Linked DNA regions of Homo sapiens: all the other regions are linked to region 4. Evidence: fine-mapped expression QTL. A gene starts in region 4. Each other region holds a variant in brackets. All regions are shown on one strand. Distances are between the middles of the regions. Region 1 overlaps UNC45B (unc-45 myosin chaperone B). Region 2 overlaps UNC45B (unc-45 myosin chaperone B). Region 3 overlaps SLFN5 (schlafen family member 5). Region 4 holds the start of SLFN5 (schlafen family member 5).

The links.
Region 1: its variant is fine-mapped to the expression of SLFN5 in whole blood (INTERVAL, PIP 0.95).
Region 2: its variant is fine-mapped to the expression of SLFN5 in spinal cord (GTEx, PIP above 0.99).
Region 3: its variant is fine-mapped to the expression of SLFN5 in whole blood (TOPMed, PIP above 0.99).

What each region holds. Positions count from the first base shown.
Region 1 is chr17:35,169,664-35,174,812 of GRCh38, forward strand. It overlaps UNC45B (unc-45 myosin chaperone B), which reads left to right. Exons shown (of 20, transcript NM_001267052.2): 11 at 174-268; 12 at 451-592; 13 at 1,659-1,799; 14 at 4,579-4,706. Among named protein-coding and RNA genes, the nearest start is that of SLC35G3, 22 kb to the right of the region's middle. The variant A/C (reference allele first, on the strand shown) is at 1,960.
Region 2 is chr17:35,161,000-35,166,148 of GRCh38, forward strand. UNC45B (unc-45 myosin chaperone B) reads left to right here. Exons shown (of 20, transcript NM_001267052.2): 9 at 2,996-3,167. Among named protein-coding and RNA genes, the nearest start is that of UNC45B, 16 kb to the left of the region's middle. The variant C/G (reference allele first, on the strand shown) is at 2,547.
Region 3 is chr17:35,263,322-35,268,470 of GRCh38, forward strand. SLFN5 (schlafen family member 5) reads left to right here. Exons shown (of 5, transcript NM_144975.4): 4 at 862-1,582; 5 at 1,751-5,149. The coding sequence ends at 2,567. Among named protein-coding and RNA genes, the nearest start is that of SLFN5, 23 kb to the left of the region's middle. The variant T/C (reference allele first, on the strand shown) is at 2,684.
Region 4 is chr17:35,240,046-35,245,194 of GRCh38, forward strand. SLFN5 (schlafen family member 5) reads left to right here and starts at 3,027. Exons shown (of 5, transcript NM_144975.4): 1 at 3,027-3,098. It overlaps LOC105371932, which reads right to left and starts at 4,106. Exons shown (of 4, transcript XM_047437262.1): 1 at 4,066-4,106; 2 at 2,877-3,174; 3 at 2,581-2,780; 4 at 1-1,925. The coding sequence starts at 4,106. The coding sequence ends at 1,478. RefSeq lists enhancers at 2,779-2,838, 3,359-3,468, 3,442-4,070.

The DNA.
Region 1 (5,149 bases), 70 kb before region 4:
ATCTCAGCAGAGGTGACACCTGAGCTGAGTTTTACAGTCTGCACAGAGGTGGATCCAAGCAAAGAAAGAGGGGCGAAGTGTTCTGGCCATAGAAACCTGTTTGAGCAAGGCTTCATCCCCAAGCCTTGGTGTCTCTGATCCTGCATGTGTCTGCTGTCTCCTCTCCTCCTCAGGGACTCTGTAAGCTCGGCTCTGCAGGTGGCACAGACTACGGTCTCAGGCAGTTTGCGGAAGGGTCGACAGAAAAACTGGCCAAACAGTGTCGCAAGTAAGGGGGCTGTGTTTCCCAGGCCCTCCATCTCCTCATGCGCCTTCCGGGCAAGAGTCTCTGGGGTGTGCTCTAGTGGAGTGTGAAAGGGACCTCACCCCTGGTTCACCACCCTGAAATCGCTTCACCCTCTTGACCTAGCCCTGGGCCCCTTCCCATGTGTGCTCCCTCCTCACTTCCAGGTGGCTGTGCAATATGTCCATAGACACTCGGACCCGACGCTGGGCAGTGGAGGGCCTGGCCTACCTCACGCTGGACGCTGATGTGAAGGACGACTTTGTCCAGGACGTCCCTGCCCTGCAGGCCATGTTTGAGCTGGCCAAGGCAGGTGTCGGGGAGTCTGGCCCGACCACAAACCTCAGGAAAGGTCTGCTGGGTCCAGACCCACAGGGAATGGATCCCAGTCTTCCTCCTGGCTCTACTCCTTACCCCTGTATAAACATGATTGGTTATTTCCCCCTTTCTGGCCCTCATTTTACCTGATTGTAAAATGGACTCCCGACTCCCAATGCCTTCCAGAGATGGGAAGATGCACAGGAGGGCAGTTTGTTTTCCTGGGGCCCTCAGGAGGTGAGGTCTTGAAGGACCTGAGGCAGCTAAAAAAAAAAAAAAAAAAAAAAAAAGCAGGGCATCGTAGCACGTGCCTGTAATTCCAGCACTTCAGGAGGCTGAGGCGGGCGGATGGCTTGAGCTCTGGGGTTCAGGACCAGCCTAGGCAACATGGTGAAACCCCAACTCTACAAAAAATACAAAAATTAGCTGGGCGTGGTGGCACATACCTGTAATCCCAGCTACTCGGGAGGCTGAGGTGGGAGGATTGCTTGAGCCTTGGGAGATCGAGGCTGCAGTGAGCTAGAATTCCAGCTCTGCACTCCAGCCTGGGTGACAGAGAGAGACCTTGCCTCAAGAAAATAAATAAATAAAAGAGGCTGTGCCTGGCCTTTCTGGGAACCTGCCCTCCCTCCCAGGCCCCCCCAGACTCCTTTCCTCATCTGCTGGGCCAACTCCCTGGCCCTTTTCTACCAGTAAATGGAGGAAGCATGGGAGAGATTTTCACCAGGACCGGAAAATGTCCAGCTCCCACCCCATCTCCAGTTGGATGGGAAAGTGTTAGACTGGGCTTGTGGAAGAGGCGCAAAGCGAGGATCTTTGTGGGACAGCTCCTATTCATACTGTCAGAGCTACTGTGGAGGGTGCAGGAGACACTGCTGCCTGCCTTTATGGGGAGAACCGTTCCTCTCCTGCGCTGCTGTCTTTCCTCAGAATGGGCCCTACCAGCTGCACTCCTCCGACACCAACCTGCCGGCCACGTGAGGGAGCATCCTGGAAGCAGAGGTTTGTCCTAAAGTTTCCTTTCTGCTTTCCCTCTCCCCAACCCTGTGCCTTCCAGACCAGTGACAAGACCATCCTGTACTCGGTGGCCACCACCCTGGTGAACTGCACCAACAGCTACGATGTCAAGGAGGTCATCCCAGAGCTTGTCCAGCTCGCCAAGTTCTCCAAGCAGCATGTGCCCGAGGAACACCCCAAGGTAGGGTCAGGCGCGACCCGGGAGGGGTCTGGTCTGTGCCACTAGGCCTCCAAAGGAGGCGGAACGGCAAAAGGAGTGGTGTCAGGAGTGGCACGGTGTGTGTTTGGGTGGTTGGGGGTAAGATACACATACATTGAATATGTTAATGGTAAACTTTCCC[A/C]CCAGATGGTGCTCATGCTTTTTCTTTGTTTTTATTTTCTATTTTGAAAAAAATCCAACAATTTATAGTCTGAGAAAACAAACAGAGCCATGATGGACACTTTGCAATTTGTGTTGTTGATTTTATGGATAAAAGACAGTTTTATTTCATGTCTCCAACAGATAACAATTTGATTTTCTCAGATTTCTGGATTTTGTGACATGGGTGCTAAGTAGGAATCATGAGAGGAGAGGCATGGTCAGCATTAGCCCAGAAGTCACAGATCCCCTGGAACCCTCTCCAACAATTCCCTGCACATGAAGATATGATTTGTGTGTGATTTGTTTAAGAATATATGCAAGATATTGCCAGCCAATAAAATCATTTAGATTTTTTTAATGATCAAAGTAATATAATCATGCTGCAAAACGAGTTAAAATGTGGGGAAAAGAAAATAACCACTCATGATTACGTCATCTCCACATGACTGCTGTTGGCATTTTGATGTTATGTTACCTACCAGAGGCTTTTTTTCTATGTATCTTTTTTCCTTTCACAGTTATAATTAGAATATATTTATCATTTTGTGCCCAATTTTGGAAAAATATGTTTTTCACATTGCCATCTCATTCTCTGAATCATTTTTATTTTATTTATTTATTTTTTGAGACAGAGTCTTGCTCTGTCACCCAGGCTGGAGTGCAGTGGTGAGATCTCGGCTCAATGCAACCTCTGCCTCCCAGGTTCAAGTGATTCTCCTGCCTCAGTCTCTCAAGTAGCTGGAATTCCAGGCATGCACCACCATGCCCGGCTAATTTTGTGTTTTCAGTAGAAACAGGGTTTCACCATATTGGTCAGGCTGGTCTCAAACTCCTGACCTCAAGTGACCCACCCACCTCGGCCTCCTAAAGCGTTGGGAATCCAGGCATGAGCCACCACACCTGGCCTCTGAATCATTTTTGAAAGCTGCATGATGTTTCATCCAGGCAAGGGTGCAGAGCATGTGCTGTGGCTGTGAAGTTCCAGTGTGGCTTCCAGGGCTTGCCCAGGGTTGTCAGCCCCTTCCCCACCACTCCTCACTCTGAGGATTATCTGTAGGGACTCTTTAACCCTGGGTTGACTTTGGGTTTCCAGCAAACCCAATCCATTGTTATGGCGGCTTCATCCACTGTGTCCTTTCCTGCCTATACCCTCTCTCTACCTCCACTCCCACCTCAGCCTTCTCCAAGAAAAACAATATACGCATCATTTAGTCTTTTGGATTATCCGTCTTTTATTTCATTCCTCTGTGAATGAGAGAATCTTTGGGACTGGTTTTCTACGGTATCAGCTCCTCAGGCTCTGTCTTGGGATTAGGTAAGGCAAGGAAGAAGAGAGGAGAGACAATCACACACGACAGCAAGGCGTGCTGTATACCCCTTGGCAGTTGCTTGGGAAGAGGGAATCTGGAGAAGTGTCTTAGTTTCCTATTGTTTCTAGAACACATTGCCACACGCACTGTGGCCTAAAACGCAATTTTTATACTTTTTTTTTTTTTTTTTTTGAGACTGAGTCTCCCTCTGTCGCCCAGGCGGAGTGCAGTGGTGCAATCTTGGCTCACTGCAACCTCCGCCTCTTGGGCTCAAGCAATTCTCCTGCTTCAGCCTCCTGAGTAGCTGGGATTATAGACACGCTCCACCATGCCCAGCTAATTTTTGTATTTTTAGTAGAGACGGGGTTTCGCCATGTTGCCCAGGCTGGTCTCGAACTCCTGGGCTCAAGTGGTCCACCCACCTCAGCCTCCCAAAGTGCTGGAATTACAGGCGGGAGCCACCACGCCTGGCCCGGTTTTAAAAATCTTATAGTTCTGGAGGTCAAGAGTCCTAAAATGAGTCTCACTCGGCTAAAGTCAAGGTGTTAGCAGGGCTGGTTTCTTTGGGAGGCTCTAAGGGAGAATCATTTTGTTGCCTTTTTCAGCTTCTAGAGGCCACCTACATGCTTTGGCTGGTGACCTTGAACCACTCTGACCTCACTTCCATTCCATTGTTACATCTCCTAGTACTAACTCTGATCTTCCTGCCTCCCTCTTATAAAGATCCTGGTGATTATATTGGGCCCACACAGAAATCTAGGCTTACCCCCTCATCTCAAAATCCTTAACTTAATCGTGTCTGCAAAATCCCTTTTGCCATGTAAGGTCCCACGTTCACAGGTTCCAGAGATTAGGCCATGGATTTTTTTTTTTTTTTTTATACAGAGTCTCGCTGTGTCGCCCAGGCTGGAGTGCAGTGGTGCGATCTCGGCTCACTGCAAGCTCTGCCCCCGGGTTCATGCCATTCTCCTGCCTCAGCCTCCTGAGCAGCTGGGACTACAGGTGCCCGCCACCACGCCTGGCTCATTTTTTGTATTTTCAGTAGAGACAGGGTTTTACCGTGTTAGCCAGGATGGTCTTGATCTCCTAACCTCGTGGTCCGCCCGCCTCAGCCTCCCAAAGTGCTGGGATTACAGGCATGAGCCACTGTGCCTGGCCAGGCCATGGACATCTTTGGAGGCCATTATTCAACCAACCCCAAGAATTCAGAAATGCACCATCTTTGGTTCCAATACCGATTGGCCTGGCACCCAGGACCCTCCCACATTGCCATCTTTTCATCTCCTCAGGACAAGAAGGACTTTATAGACATGCGGGTGAAGCGGCTTCTGAAGGCGGGTGTCATCTCTGCCCTGGCTTGCATGGTGAAAGCAGATAGTGCCATCCTCACTGACCAGACCAAGGAGCTGCTGGCCAGGTGGGGCTGCAGTGGGCCAAGGCTTGGAACTAGGGCTGGGGGCCGAGGGTCCTGGAGTGCAGCACACTGGGCAGGGAGATAGAAATGGTGGGGGCCTAAATGAGGAGATAAACTATTGGGAAAGCCTGGAGAAAGGTCTGAGGGGATCAGCTTTGAAAAGTGACATGGGACCAGGGGTGGTGGCTCATGCCTGTAATCCCAGGGCTTTGGGAGGCCCAGGTGGGAGGATTGCTTGAGCCCAGGAATTCAAGACTAGCTTGGGAAACATATTGAGACCCCATCTGTACAAAAAAATTTTAAATTAGCCTGGCACGGTGGTGTGCACCTGTACTGCCAGCTACTTGGGAGGCTGAGGCAGGAGGATCACTTAAGCCCAGGAATTCAGGGCTGCAGTGAATGATGATGGTGCTACTGCACTCCAGCCTGGGTAACAGAGCAAGATC
Region 2 (5,149 bases), 79 kb before region 4:
AAAGTGCATGTGCAAGTGCTTAGACTTTAACACATTACCCTACTGCTAAATGCCCAAACCCCACTTCCTCCCTGCCTCATTCTGGTCTTCTCCACATATGTCATGAAACGTGAGCGTTAACAACAGATCTTCTCTCTCAGCACCAGGATCTAGGCTCATCCACGTGTTATGGGATGGGACAGGTAGAGAGCAGTATTTTTTATTCTGTTCTTTTTGTAAAGGGCACCAACATGGACAGCACTTGGGTAAAAATAATGTGGATTTAAAAATTCAGATATTCGAATACAAAGCTGCAATGTTGAGGTGTTATGTGTTGTGCAAACTGGGCTGGGAGGCACGGTAAGGGAGCTGTCAGGATGTCAAACCCGAAGTGAGCTTTTGGGTGAGAGAAGGGGCAAAGATAGACAGGAGGAAGGTCTAGAGTGTTTGAACAGAAGAGAAATGAGATGCTCAAGGCATGGGCAAGAATGGAAGGGGAGACCGGGAGATGAGATTGGAGAGGGGCATTTGAGGGATGCTTTTAGGACCCAGGCTGGGGAGTCTGTGTTGGCTCATCAGGCACTTCCTGTTACTCCCCAGCCCTACTGAGCACTTTTTAAATGCATGCTTGTTGCATAATAAGAAATACACATATTTGGTCTCTGCTGCTGTTTCCTGGCACACAGCTAACCTCTGAAGTGATAAGTATCTTTTTGTATGCTCATGTAATAACTGGTGGCTGGGATCCCCTAGATAACCTCAGAATGTCAGAATGGGGGCTGGTTGCCAGGGGAAACAACCATGCAATTACAGGATTGGAACTTTCGGCCCCCCACCCCTTACCTCCAGGAAGGGGAGAGGGGCTGGAGGTGGGATTCATCACTAATAACTAATGATTTAATCAACCGTGCCTACATAATGAAGCCTCTATTTAAAAAAAATCCCTAGCCAAAGGGGCTTAAAGTGCTCCCAATTTGGTGAACACATGGAGGTGCTGGAGGGATGGCTACCTGGAGAGGGCATGGAAGTGCCACGCCCCTTGCCAATACCTTGCCCTCTGCATCTCTTCCATCTGGCTGTTCCTGAGTTTCTGTTTTTGTTGTTGTTGTTGTTTAAATAATAAATTGGTAATCTAGTAACTAAACTGGTTTTCTGAGTTCTGTGAGCCATTCTAGCAAATTATCAAACCTGAGGGAGAGGGTCATGGGAATCTCTGATTTATAGTTGGCCAGTCAGAAGCACAGGTGGCAACTTGGACTTGAGGCTGGCATCCGAAGGAGGGTAGTCTTGTGGGATTGAGCCCTTAACCTGTGGAGTCTGTGCTAACCCCAAGTGGTTAGTGTCAGCGTTGAATTGTAGGACACCCATCCAGTGTCAGAAGTAAGCTCTGAGAGTAGGAGTAGTTTAGGGAGGAAACAGAAGTTTTCCTTTAAGTGGTAAAATGTACATAGCACAAAATTTACTGCCAGGCGCTTTCTTTTTCTTTTTCTTTCATATGGGAAGATGGGTCTGTTGCCCGGGCTGGTCTCAAACTCCTGGGCTCAAGTGGTCCTCCCACCTCGGCCTAACCAAAGTGCTGGAATTACAGGCATGAGCCACCAAGCCACTTCCAGGCACTTTTTTTTTTTGAGACAGAGTTTTGCCCTTGTAGCCCTGGCTGGAGTGCAATGGCGTGATCTTGGCTCACTGAAACCTGTACCTCCTGAGTTCTCCTGCCTCAGTCTCCCAAGCAGCTGGGATTACAGGTGCCCGCCACCATGCCCAGCTAATTTTTTTGTATTTTTAGTAGAGGCGGGGTTTTGCCATGTTGGCCAGGCTGGTTCCAGGCACTTTTAATTCCCTCCTAACATCTAGAGTTTCATGCCTCCCAGCTTTTACCTGGAATGTTCTTTCTCCCACTTCCCTGTACTACACAAGGTCTGACCAGCTCCAAGCCACCTCTAAAACCTGGCTCCGAAATCCATCTCTCTGTTGCCCCAGAGGCAACATAGTATAACAGCTAACATCACAGGCTTTGAAATCAGACGGGATTGGGAGCGTGTCCTTGCTATGTCACTGGGCAACTTACTTGACTTGTCCTGGGCAACTTACTTGACTTCTCTAAGTCTTGTTTTTCTCCTCTGAAAGATGGAAATAATGATTCCTAACCAGCAGGGTTATTGTTAGGATTAGATGAAGTGAATGTGTATAAAGCTCTTGGCACGTAGTAAGTGCTCAGAATAAATTGCAGATCTTATTTTGTTGAAGTGAATCACCTCATCTTCAGTGTTACCCTTCTATACTTATCACATCTCATTGCAATCTTCATATGTCAGTTTTCCCTATTGTATTGTGAGCTTTTGGAGGTCAGGGTTGTATCTGTTATTTTGGTAGCCAGTACCCCAAAGGTGCTCATTTATTTAACAAAGACATGACTGTTGAATTTGCCCAACGGTAATAGGAAGCCATTGAAGATTTTTCAACAGAAGAGATGAGAAGACATCATCATCATCATCATAAATGTAAATATGGCATTTACTAAATAAATACTTAATAAATACACACTCAATAATAAACATTTATTGAGT[C/G]ATAGTAGTGTGTCTGGATTGATAGTAGAGTTTCCATACATTATCTCATTGAGCCCTCAAACTTTATGAGGTAGGTAGTATTATTCCCATTTTACAAATGAAGAAGCTGAGGCTTGAGGAAGGGAATATGAAATAGTATTTGGAGAAGACTATACATCAGCCCATGGAATGTCAGCACTGGTAGAGTCCTCTGAGATCGACTAGTCCTGATTTTGTACACATGAAAATAGAGGCCCCTAGAGGGAGGTGAATTGGTCAAGCTGGGGGCAGTGTCAGGTGTATAACCTGGGTCCTTTGACCCCATTCTAGGCCCTTTCATTCTGGATGAACCACATGTTTTCTACAGACAGGGCTGGAGAGAAGCTGATGATAACAAGTCACTGAGTGAGGGGTGTGTGTGAGGATGGAGCCCAGCAGGAATCTTAGGCTTGCCACTGTCTACCCTGCAGGTCTGAGGAAGATCCTGAAGGTTGTGGGGCAGGTTCCAGATCTGCCATCCTGCCTGCCCCTGACTGACAACACCCGCATGCTGGCCTCTATCCTCATCAACAAGCTCTATGATGACCTGCGCTGTGACCCGGAGCGCGATCACTTCCGCAAGATCTGTGAGGAATATATCACGTAAGTTTCCTGGAGGCCTCACAGGGTCAGGCTCTGTCTTGGTTATCTATGGCTGTGTAACAAATTATCTCAAAATTTAGCAGCTCAAACAATAGTGTTTTATTATCTCACACCAGAACAGAAATTTGGGAGTGGTTTGGCTGGGTGGCTCTGGCTTATGGTCTTTCATGAAGTTACAGTCATATGCTGGCTGGGGCTGCAGCCATCTGGAGGCTTGACTGGGGCTGGAAAATGCTTCCAAGATGGTGGACTCACACAGCTGGCACACTGGTGCTGGCTGTTGGTGGGAGGCCTTGGTTCCTCTCCCTGCAGACCTCTCTGCAGCCTGCTGAAGCGTCTTCACTGCATGCCGCTGGCATGCCACAGTAAGAGAGCCAAGACAGAGCAAGGCAGCAGGGAGATGTCTTCTCTATCTAGCCTCAGAAGACACATGTCATCACTTCCGCCACATTCTATTCGTTAGAAGCAAGTCAGTAAGTTTGACCTATGTTTAAGGGGAAGAAATTAGGTTTCAGCTTTTGAAGGCAGGGGTGTCAACATATTTTTGGACATATTTTATTTTATTTATTTTTTGAGACAGAGTCTCACTCTGTTCCCCACGCTGGAGTGCAGTGACACAATCATAGCTCACTGCAGCCTCGAACTTTTGGGCTCATGTAATCCTCCTACCTCAGCCTCCCAGGGTAGCTGGGACTACAGGCACTTGCCACCATGCTGGGCTAATTTTTTTTTTTTTCTGTCACCCGGGCTGGAGTGCAGTGGCATGATCATGACTCACTGCAGCCTCAGCCTGCTGGGCTCAAGCGATCCTCCTGCCTCTGCCTCAGCCTCCCAAGTAGCTGAGACTATAAGTGTGCACTACCACGCCTGGCTAATTTTTGTATTTTTTGTTTTGCTATGTTTCCCAGGCTGGTATTGAACTCCCAAGCTCAAGCAATCTTCCTGCCTCTGCCTCCCAAAGTGCCGGGATTACAGGCATCAACTACCTTGCCCAGCCATGGACATATTTTATACCTACCACTGGCTTCTGTGGTTGAAAGGAACACATGTCAGCTTGTCAAGGAGGGAGGCCCGGTTCTTTCAAGACTAAGACTCATGTGGCTTTGCAGAGCTAGACAGGGGTTAGGACCCTCAGCAGCTGCAGTTCCTGAGTCTCCTCACTGGTGCTCCAGCATCAGTGTGACTCCAGTGCATGACCTTTTAATTCTTTATTGCAGTGATTCCCAGACTTGTAAATTATTCAGATTTCTGAGACATCCCCTCTTGACTCGGTAGTTTGGGGTGTGGCTCAGGAAGCTGCATGCTTAAAAGCACTCCAGGTGAGTCTTAGGTGGGTGAAGACGTTGCCTTTACTCTGCTTTTCCTTTCTATATTCCAGGGGTCAACAAACTTTTTCTATGAAGGGCCAGAGAGTAAATATTTTAGTATTTGTGGGACAGATAAGTCTCTGTCAACATATTTTTAAAAATCCTTTAAAATGCAAAAAGCTGGCTGGGCACAGTGGCTCACGCCTGTAATCCCAGCACTTTGGGATGCCGAGGAGCGCGGATCACCTGAGGTCAGGAGTTCAAGACCAGCCTGACCAACATGGTGAAACCCCATCTCTACTAAAAATACCAAAAATTAGCCGAGTATGGTGGCACATGCCTGTAATCTCAGCTACTAGGGAGGCTGAGGCAGAAGAATCGCTTGAACCCAGGAGGTAGAGGTTGTAGTGAGCCAAGATCGCACCACTGCACTCCAGCCTGGGTGACAGAGCAAGTCTCCATCTCAAAAAGAAAAAAGAAAGGCAAAAAGCTGCTGGCCAGGTGTGGTGGCTCATGCCTGTAATCCTAGCATTTTGGGAGGCCGATGTGGGAGAATTGCCTGAGACCAGGAGTTTGAGACCAACCCAGGCAATGTAGAGAGACCCTCATCTCTAAAAAAAAAAAAAAAAAAAAAAAAATTAAAAATGAGTCAAGTGTGGTGGCACACCCCTGTAG
Region 3 (5,149 bases), 23 kb after region 4:
GGTTTCACCATGTTGGCCAGGCTGGTGTTGAACTCCTGGGCTTAAGTGATCCAACTGCCTCGGCCTCCCATGGTGCTGGGATTACAGGCATGAGCCACCACGCCCGGCTTCCTTGCTGTTTCTTGTCCCTGAGTGTTAGTCATGTGCCCTCTTTTGACCATGTCTCTATTCTCCTCTTCAACTCACTAACTCCAAGTCATCCTTTAATAATCAGCTCAGGGCTGGGTGCGGTGACGCACGCCTGTGATCCCAGCACTTTGGGAGGCCCAGGCGGGCAGATCACTTGAGCCCAGGAGTTTGAGACCAGCCTGGCCAACATGGTGAAACCCCAGCTCTACTAAAAATACAAAAATTAGCCAGGCTTGGTGGCACACGCCTTTGGTCCCAGCTACTTGGGAGGCTGAGGCAGGAGAATCACTTGAACCCAGGAGACAGAAGTTGCAGTGAGCCGAGATCGCACCACTGGTGCGACAGAGCAAGACTCCATCTCAAAAAAAAAAAAAAAGAAGAAGAAAGAAAAAGAAAAAAGAAAAAAAAGAATCAGCTCAGGTGTTTCCTTCTTCATAAAGACTTTCATATTTTCTTCTTTCCTAAATTGTACCTTTCCTTGGTATTCACATAATACTTTCTGTCCTTCTCTCTAGTTGTATTGACCACTTTTTACCATAATTATTATTGTCTGTTTATACCAGCTAATTAGCGCCCCATCAAAATAAGAATTGTTTATCTTTTTATTACTAATGTATAACCTATTGTAGATACATAGTAGAGTCCCAGTGTTGATTAATTCTTCTACGTATAATGATGATTACTAGCTTGTCTGAGGCTTTTCTAATTTCTTCCCATCCTTTCCCTGTCTAGTATTTTCAGACAGAGTGGTATATACTCCAGAAAGCCTCTACAAGGAACTCTTCTCACAACATAAAGGACTCAGAGACTTAATAAATACAGAAATGCGCCCTTTCTCTCAAGGAATATTGATTTTTTCTCAAAGCTGGGCTGTGGATTTAGGTCTGCAAGAGAAGCAGGGAGTCATCTGTGATGCTCTTCTAATTTCCCAGAACAACACCCCTATTCTCTACACCATCTTCAGCAAGTGGGATGCGGGGTGCAAGGGCTATTCTATGATAGTTGCCTATTCTTTGAAGCAGAAGCTGGTGAACAAAGGCGGCTACACTGGGAGGTTATGCATCACCCCCTTGGTCTGTGTGCTGAATTCTGATAGAAAAGCACAGAGCGTTTACAGTTCGTATTTACAAATTTACCCTGAATCCTATAACTTCATGACCCCCCAGCACATGGAAGCCCTGTTACAGTCCCTCGTGATAGTCTTGCTTGGGTTCAAATCCTTCTTAAGTGAAGAGCTGGGCTCTGAGGTTTTGAACCTACTGACAAATAAACAGTATGAGTTGCTTTCAAAGAACCTTCGCAAGACCAGAGAGTTGTTTGTTCATGGCTTACCTGGATCAGGGAAGACTATCTTGGCTCTTAGGATCATGGAGAAGATCAGGAATGTGTTTCACTGTGAACCGGCTAACATTCTCTACATCTGTGAAAACCAGCCCCTGAAGAAGTTGGTGAGGTATGCTGCTTGTCTGTGTTCACTTTATTTTCTTGAGTGACTGTGGCTGGTGTGGCTTTCAGTTTACTTGCTAAAATTCATATTGTATTTACCATGACCAGAGGGGTTTAAGAGTAGAATCTGCTTTCTTTGTTTCATTGGGGAAAAACCTGACTCTGTTTCTTACAGTTTCAGCAAGAAAAACATCTGCCAGCCAGTGACCCGGAAAACCTTCATGAAAAACAACTTTGAACACATCCAGCACATTATCATTGATGACGCTCAGAATTTCCGTACTGAAGATGGGGACTGGTATGGGAAAGCAAAGTTCATCACTCAGACAGCAAGGGATGGCCCAGGAGTTCTCTGGATCTTTCTGGACTACTTTCAGACCTATCACTTGAGTTGCAGTGGCCTCCCCCCTCCCTCAGACCAGTATCCAAGAGAAGAGATCAACAGAGTGGTCCGCAATGCAGGTCCAATAGCTAATTACCTACAACAAGTAATGCAGGAAGCCCGACAAAATCCTCCACCTAACCTCCCCCCTGGGTCCCTGGTGATGCTCTATGAACCTAAATGGGCTCAAGGTGTCCCAGGCAACTTAGAGATTATTGAAGACTTGAACTTGGAGGAGATACTGATCTATGTAGCGAATAAATGCCGTTTTCTCTTGCGGAATGGTTATTCTCCGAAGGATATTGCTGTGCTTTTCACCAAAGCAAGTGAAGTGGAAAAATATAAAGACAGGCTTCTAACAGCAATGAGGAAGAGAAAACTGTCTCAGCTCCATGAGGAGTCTGATCTGTTACTACAGATCGGTGATGCGTCGGATGTTCTAACCGATCACATTGTGTTGGACAGTGTCTGTCGATTTTCAGGCCTGGAAAGAAATATCGTGTTTGGAATCAATCCAGGAGTAGCCCCACCGGCTGGGGCCTACAATCTTCTGCTCTGTTTGGCTTCTAGGGCAAAAAGACATCTGTATATTCTGAAGGCTTCTGTGTGACAGGAAACCCAAGCCTAAGAAACAATTAAGTGGTTCTCATCTCTAATTAACTGTGAAACCATTTAATCCAAACATGTAAGCACACACTCACTTATTAAGTCACATACTTTTCTAGG[T/C]GCTGGGGATTGAGAACGAATCGATGTAAGATTCCTCCTTTAGGGCAGAGACAGACCACTGACAAATACACAGATAGACAAGGAATTTCCCATGGTAAAAAGGGATATCAGTAATTAGAGGACCGTGAGACTCAGAGATGTGTGTGTGTGTGTGTGTGTGTGTGTGTGTGTGTGCGCGCGCGCACGTGCACATGTGTGTAGGTAGATGGAGGGGGTGATTATTTTGGGTGGTCAGGGAAGTGCTCAGTGAGGGAAGAACTTGTCATGAGAATCTCTGAGCGTGCCAGGCAGACTCGGATATTTTTATAAATTTTTAACATGGCCACTTGCAGAAGAGCTTGAATGGGACGTGCAGCGAGAATGTGAAGGATGGAGCAGGTAGCTCATCTGGCCTTGTAGGTGCCGGGAACGGGCAAGACATGTTTTGAAATGTAAGATCACAGACTGTTTTTTGCAAGACCACATTATATTACTTTATTATTTTCTGCTTTTTCTTTTAACGACATTAGTGTTTTTGATCACTATATTTTAAAATGCTTTTTGTGAGCCTTTTGGTTATGTGGAATCTGTTCCTTAGCTCTGATTTTTTATTCTTATGGAGCGTCTTAGGTTACTACATGAAGGTAAGACTGCCACAGTCCCCCAGGGAGGCACACTGTGTTTTACTGATTGATTTGAAGATGATAGAGAGCCTAGGGGGATGAGTCTATTGGACTCAAAGGTTACATTTTGTTTTTCCATTTAATTTAATAATCAACAAAACGACAAAGTCAGTTTAATATCTTTCTTCTGCTGAGTCTTCAGGATGTTAGCTAGTCTTTCAAAAGCCATTGCTACAAAAGTGCAAATTTCTCATTTCCTGTGGGTCTCTAGAAACTCTCTCAATATTTAAAGCCAAACAAATCCATCTTTTCTGAGAGACAGAAACTAAAAAATTCAGAGTTAATTCACTATTAAAAACAGCAAGGCCCTGCTATTTCCCAAGAATAAAGAAATTTAAAATTCTCATTGTAAGAAGTATGAACTTGAAGCTAGAATTGGTTTATTTCTGGCAGCTACTTACAATATTAAGAACTTTACTTTTTAAATTTGAGACAATTTCACAGGAAAGCAAGAAATTAGTCTATTGTGAAATGTTTTTACAACTAACTTGGAATATACTGCAAATCACTAGTAAGTAGAGACACATTTAAGATAAAATGATTAATAAAACAATTGGTAATTCTGAATAAGGATCTGAATAAATCCAGATCACAGACTGTTCCTTTACCAATATGTAAAAGAATGTGCAAAATTAGTAAAAATATACCCAAAAATTTACCAGCAACAGAGAAGCAAAGAATGGAGTTCAACCTTACACTATAAACATCTAATAGATATGTATGAAAATTTAAAAACTAGAAAAGGTTGGGCATGGTGGCTCATGCTTGTGATCCCAGGACTTTAGGAGGCCAAGGTGGGAGGATTGTTTGAGCCCAGGAGTTCAAGACCAGCTTGAGCAATATAGTGAGACCCTGTCTCTACAAAAACAAACAAACAAACAAACAAATAAATAAATAAATAAAATTAGCTGGGAATGGTGATGCACACCTGGAGTCCTAGCTACTCAGAAGGCTGAGGCAGGACGATCACTTGACCTCAGAAGTCTGAGGTTACAGTGAGCTATGATCATACCAGTGCACTCCAGTCTGGGTGACAGAACAAGACCCTGTCTCCAAAAATTAAATAAATAAAACAAAAAAAAAGAATTTAAAAGTTTTATATAAAGGCATAGCTACTATCTCATCTGCCCAGTGTAGTCATGAATAGATGTCACATAAAGAAAAGAAAACCAGAATTCTTGTTAATATGGCCAGTTTGAAGGGTGGTGGCGGAGGTATTGAGCAGGCAGCTCAGGGAAATGCCAGGGAGACCCTTGAGCACAGAAACTCCTGATTGTCCCCAGGGACTCTCCGTGGACACAGGAGGGATTTTCCAGGATTTCACATGAATTCAATGAAGGGGGCTGTGTCTTATTCCTGGATGCTTTGCCTCCTTCATGGAATTCAGTGGATTTAATGGAAGTTCCTAGGCAACAATAAAGAGTAGAAACCAGGTTAACAGCGAGGGCCTCATCTCACACCAGATCATATCAGGCTACACAAAAGTAGATGGAAGACACCACCCAGGCCTCCAGCTATACACTGGAGAAGAAGCCAAACTAGTCTACTTCATCTAAGAAAGTTGTCAAAGAGAGCCCTTCTATACTATCTTAAGGTAAAAAGAAAGACTCTACCCAGCTGCCCTGATTAAGCATTAGAAAGATAAGTGTTCTGATCATTAGGCGAAAGACAATGGGGAAAAATGTAGAAAAGAAATATGACATGAGCCAGATGAAGAACCCATCCTGAAAGGATATATAACTCAGGGGACAAAAGACAACTCACCATAAGTTGGGCGCAGTGGATCACGCCTGTAATCTCAGCA
Region 4 (5,149 bases):
TGGCTCTTGGCATTTTTTACTGGACAAGGCAAACCTAAAGATTTTACTTTTAAACTTGAATTAATGCTGAGAGTAAGTCACATCTGCCCTCACTTCCCTCCCACTCCACACAAACATGCATACCACTGGAAAGGCAACATTTTATCAAAGGCATTTGGCGTTTTTCCTCTCTTATGACCCTCTAGAAGCTTGAGAATGTGGGAGAGAAGGGCTGGAACCAGAAATGGAGAAGTAGTGCTGGAACAATAATGACCTGAAAGCCAGTGGAACTGAGGTCTCCTGCAGGAACTTTTGGGGAGGCCTGGATACTTTGGAGACCAATGGGTATGGATGGAAAGAAGAGCAGAAATGATTCAGCTCATAAAGCAGTGAAAAGGAATGATCTAAGTACATGAACAAATCTTTAAAGCAAAATGTTAAAGTGTGGGAGCAAGTTCTACAGAACACATACAATATGATACTTTTTTTTTTTTTTTTAAAGAGACAGGGTCTCACTCTATTGCCCATGCAGGGGTGCAGTGGCACAATCAGAGCTCATAGCATCCTTCAACTCCTGGGCTCAAGCCATCTTCCCACTTCAGCCTCCTGAGTAGCTGGGACTTCATAGGCAGGCACCACCACACCCAGCTAATTTAAAACAATTTTTTTGGCTGGGCGCGGGGGCTCACACCTGTAATTCCAGCACTTTGGAAAGCCGAGGCAGGCAGATCATGAGGTCAAGAGTTCGTAGACCAGCATGGCCAATATGGTGAAACCTTGTCTCTACTAAAAATACAAAAATCAGCTGGGCGTGGTGGGATGTGCCTGTAGTCCCAGCTACTTGGGAGGCCAAGGCAGGAGAATTGCTTGAACCCCGGAGGCCGACATTGCAGCAAGCCGAGATTGCGCCACTGCACTCCAGCCTGAGTGACACAGCAAGACTCCGTCTCAAACAAACAAACAAACAAACAAACAATTTTTTTTTTTTAGAGATAGGGTCTTGCTATGTTGCCCAGGCTGGTCTCAAACTCTGGGCCTCAAGCCGTCTTCCCTCTCAGCCTTCCAAAGTGCTGGAATTACAGTCGTGAGTAACTGCACCTGGCCAACATGATGCCATTTACATGCAGCTTAAACGCATATACATGTGTTGAATCAGTGTCATGTGTTGATGAGGGACATAAACACATTTACTAAAAGTATAAACAGTTGCATGGGAATTAGTAACTTTAAATTCATAAAATTGTACTGGCTATCAGGTGAGTAGGGGACAAGTGGAATGAGGGAATGAGACCAGCTGGGTACCCAAATATTGCTAATGTTATTGCTTAAGCTGTGTGGTGAATACACAGGTGTTCAATTTACTATTATTTCGCACTTTCCGTGTACTTTAGCTATTTGACAATACATTTAAAAATCGAAAACTTATCCCATAATCCCAGGCTCCAGAGGTGATAGTAGGTGGTGTTTTCCAGACCTTTCCCGCTGCCTTGATTTTCTGTTAACTGGCCACCATCCTTGTCTCCTCGCGCTGCCGGTCGCTGCAGAACCCCTGCGCGGAGGGACTGCCAGTTCCCAGGAAGGTGCAGGACAGCTGGAGCCTCTTCTTCTCTGGGCAGGGATTTAAATGTTCTTGGGTAGCCTCGCCAGAGACCTGTGCGGCCCTACAGTGACCTTCTTTCCAGCCACTTTCCCATGAGCTCAAAGCTTTGGATTCTGTCACTTGCAAAGGGTCAGGCCTGATCCCTTGCGGGTTCTTGAGAAGTGAGTAAGACTTCCAGCGCCCCGGCCCAGACTGCGACGACCCAGACTGCGACGACCCAGTCTGCGCCTGGCGCAGGCTCCATAGACGGCTTTTCTTCAGCTCTGTCCACTGAGACCTCGAGCCCTTGAGCAGAAGATGGGAGAGAGAGGGTCTTGCTGGGCGGGCTCCAGAAGTCCTCCTGGCTCTGGGCGCAGGAGTTGGAAGAGAAGAGATAGAGAAACATCTACTCACCAGAATTGTAAACTGGAAGAAGGGTAGAGGAAAGGTGCCTAGAGAGGGCAGCTGGAATCAGGATTGGGCTGAATATTTTAGGAGTCCCCAAGTGCTACTTCTATCCGCTGGGAGCACGGGTTCGAATCTGCCCCCAGGCAGCCCGCTCCTGGTTCTCTTGTCCCCCTGTGCTGCGGCGGGGCCCACTTCGGCCCTCGGGTTCCCCGCACAGGCCACACAGGGCAGCAGCGCGCGCCGTACCCACGGGCAGTTCGAGAGGGCCGCGCGTGGCGGAGCCAGGCCCTTCGCCAGCGCCCAGTACAAATTTAGTACTAGAATTAAGAGAAACACACTGAAATCTGACAGCCCCGCCTAAGACCCGGGCGTGAGGAAGTCTGCGGTGGGTGATGAATACAAAGAACAGTTTCTCTTTCCTGTCAGTAAAACGCTGTTTCCAGAGCCTGCCAGGTTTCGCCCCAGTGGCCACACCTATGCCTGGCAGGTGCTGGTCCGAGCCCCTAGCGCCAGCAAAAGAAAGGAGGCGGACGCAACATTCTCGAATTACTAGGAGAAGGAGGGAGGCTTTCCCTTCCCCCCAGTGCCCCATGTACCAACGCGTCTCGCCATACCCCTTGCCCCTCTTCCAGCAGCTGACGGAGTAATTCGAGTAGGAATCGAAAGATTTGGAGGCGCCGGGGGAGAAACCTGCGGAGCGCTCTCCGAGCCTGTGGCGTCCCAGGAAGACTCCGAGCGGGGCCAGGGAAGTTCTCTGGAGGACATGGGGTGGATACCCAGGTCTCCTTCCCTGGGTGAAATAAGAACTGAAAATCTAAAAATAAAATAAATAAAATAAAATAGAAAACACAGAGAAGCAACAAAAAAGCGCTTCCCCTCCTCAGTTCTCCCCAGTCCACCCAAGGTTTACCAAGACTGTTGTAGTTGCAAGAGTGGGCTTCCGGCTCCACGTAACGATGCGATTGGGCTGTACCTCTGTCTGTCTCCTGCGCGATGTCCCGCCCCGGGAGGTGTCACGGAACTCAGCTGATATAAGCCCGGGATCCCGCCGGGTCAGGTTCTCTGCTCTGGACTTGGGAGGCTCCGTTGCCTGCTCCCGGAGGGAGACGCGCTGCCGAGGAGAACCCAGCGGGTAATGAATCCCCCGCGCTTCTTTGCCCAGGCCTTCCCCAAACCTCCCCCCGGTCTGCGCGGGTTCTCCTATTGGGCTGTGGTGAAGACAAGGTGCGGCGACTGCAGCTCCCCAGGTCTGGGCGCTGCCGGGAGAGAGTCTTTCCCGCTGGGGAGATTTAGTTTGTTGACTCAGGAGCACCTCCAACGACAGCTAGTGGCAGAGGACCCGGGAGCTGGGAGGTTCGGAACGCGGGGCGAGCTGGGGAGGAGGGAGAGGCGCCGACCCAGCGCAGCCTACATCTTAGCAAACCAAACCTGGCAACATTTCCCCACGGTTCAGGAGCACGAAGGACTTAAGGGAAAACGACGAAATCGGGGCTCCCGAGGATGAAGTTAAATGGGTTGTGGCCTGGGGACAAATAGGGCCAATGTCCAGTCTATTACAAGAGGCTTTGTTCCAGAGGCTTGCCTATAAGCCCCTGGCTTGGAACGTCAGTCTTCAAACTGTAACAACAGGGGCAGGCTACTAGGGTAGCCCACAAAGCCCTGTATCCCCCATACAGTGACTAACTAGAGCCCTAGTTGGTCATATCCGCAGTGGCTGAGACTGCGGTGTGATTCCGTTTCCCTCTTGCATGTGTCCCGGGAGCCCGAGTTGTCGAAGCCCAAATTCAGGCTCAGGAACCTGATGTGCTGTTGATGCCAAACACTGACACACAGATGCTTGGAGACAGAGGAAGATTTATTCCATTTGGCCAAAGCGAGAAGGCAAGAGGTCAAGATCTCTCAAATCCACCCTAACAAAAAGAAGTAGTGGGGAGTTTTTATGAGACCAGGAAGTAAGGGAGGGGGAATTTCAGGGAACCTCGGGGAAAAGTCTTTCTTCGTCTCAGATTACATCTTGAACCACCAGACTTCTGGGCGTCAGCAGCTGGTCACAATGCCCTTAAAGGCATTCATTCCTTCTGCAAAATTTTTTTCTTGACTCTGAAGCTATATCCTCCTGCTTGACAAAGAAACGGTGCATCAGCAGTTTATAATTATATTGCTAGAAAAAGGAATATTGGGCAAAAAGTGGGTAGTTAACATATGCAAATAAGCAAGGGCCTCATCGGAATTTTCATGGTTTCATCACTAAAAATGTTGGGGTGCTGAAATCTTGAGGGGCTCGGTTGCACCAGAAGGGGATCCTTTGTCACTAGTGCAGGCAGGAAGGGATGCTTGAGGGAGGATGGGGGGAACTTTTCAATAGTTCCTCCCCTCCCCTACCAATAGCGGGTGGGAGGGCGTTGGTTTAGAGCCAAGCCTCTAGGAGAAGATGAGAGCAATGGCTAAAGTTTGTCTGGCCTCGCCCTATGAGAAGGGGGCGGAGGCTGTGCCTGCCTTTGTGGGGGAAAAAGAAGCCGATTCCTAATCTGTCTGTCTCATGGGAGGTGAGAGTTCCTGTGGCAGGATAACAGACAAGCAATTCAGTGTGATAACATCCTGTGTCAGAAGTATTCATTTAAATGTCACAAGAGGCCGGGCGCCGTGGCTTATGCCTGTAATCTCAGCACTTTGGGAGGCTGAGGCTGGTGGATCACGTGAGGTGGGCGGATCACTTGAGGTCAGGAGTTCGAGACAGCCTGGCCAACATGGTGAAACCCCATCTGTACAAAAAATGCAAAAATTAGCTGGATGTGATGACACATGCCTGTAATTCCAGCTACTCGGAGCCTGAGGCAGGAGAATTGCTTGAACCACCCCCTCCCCCCACCATAAAAAAAGTCACAAGAATTAAACTCTTTTGTTTAAGAAAATAAGCAGTTTTATTATTTCCATGTAAGAGGAAGAAGAGGAAAATGCTGTGATCCACTCCTGGCCTGATTATGAAAATTCACACGTGTTTATAGCAGCCCCACTTTAACCATGGGATATGTCCCAAGACCCTAAGTTGATGCCTAAAACCAGATGCCTGAAACCATGGGTAGCACCAAACCCTATATCTAATGTGTTTTTTCCCTATACTTTCACTGTTTCACTTAAAGAAAGCACTTAAAGAAAGGCTTTTCTTTGGCATATCTGAATTGC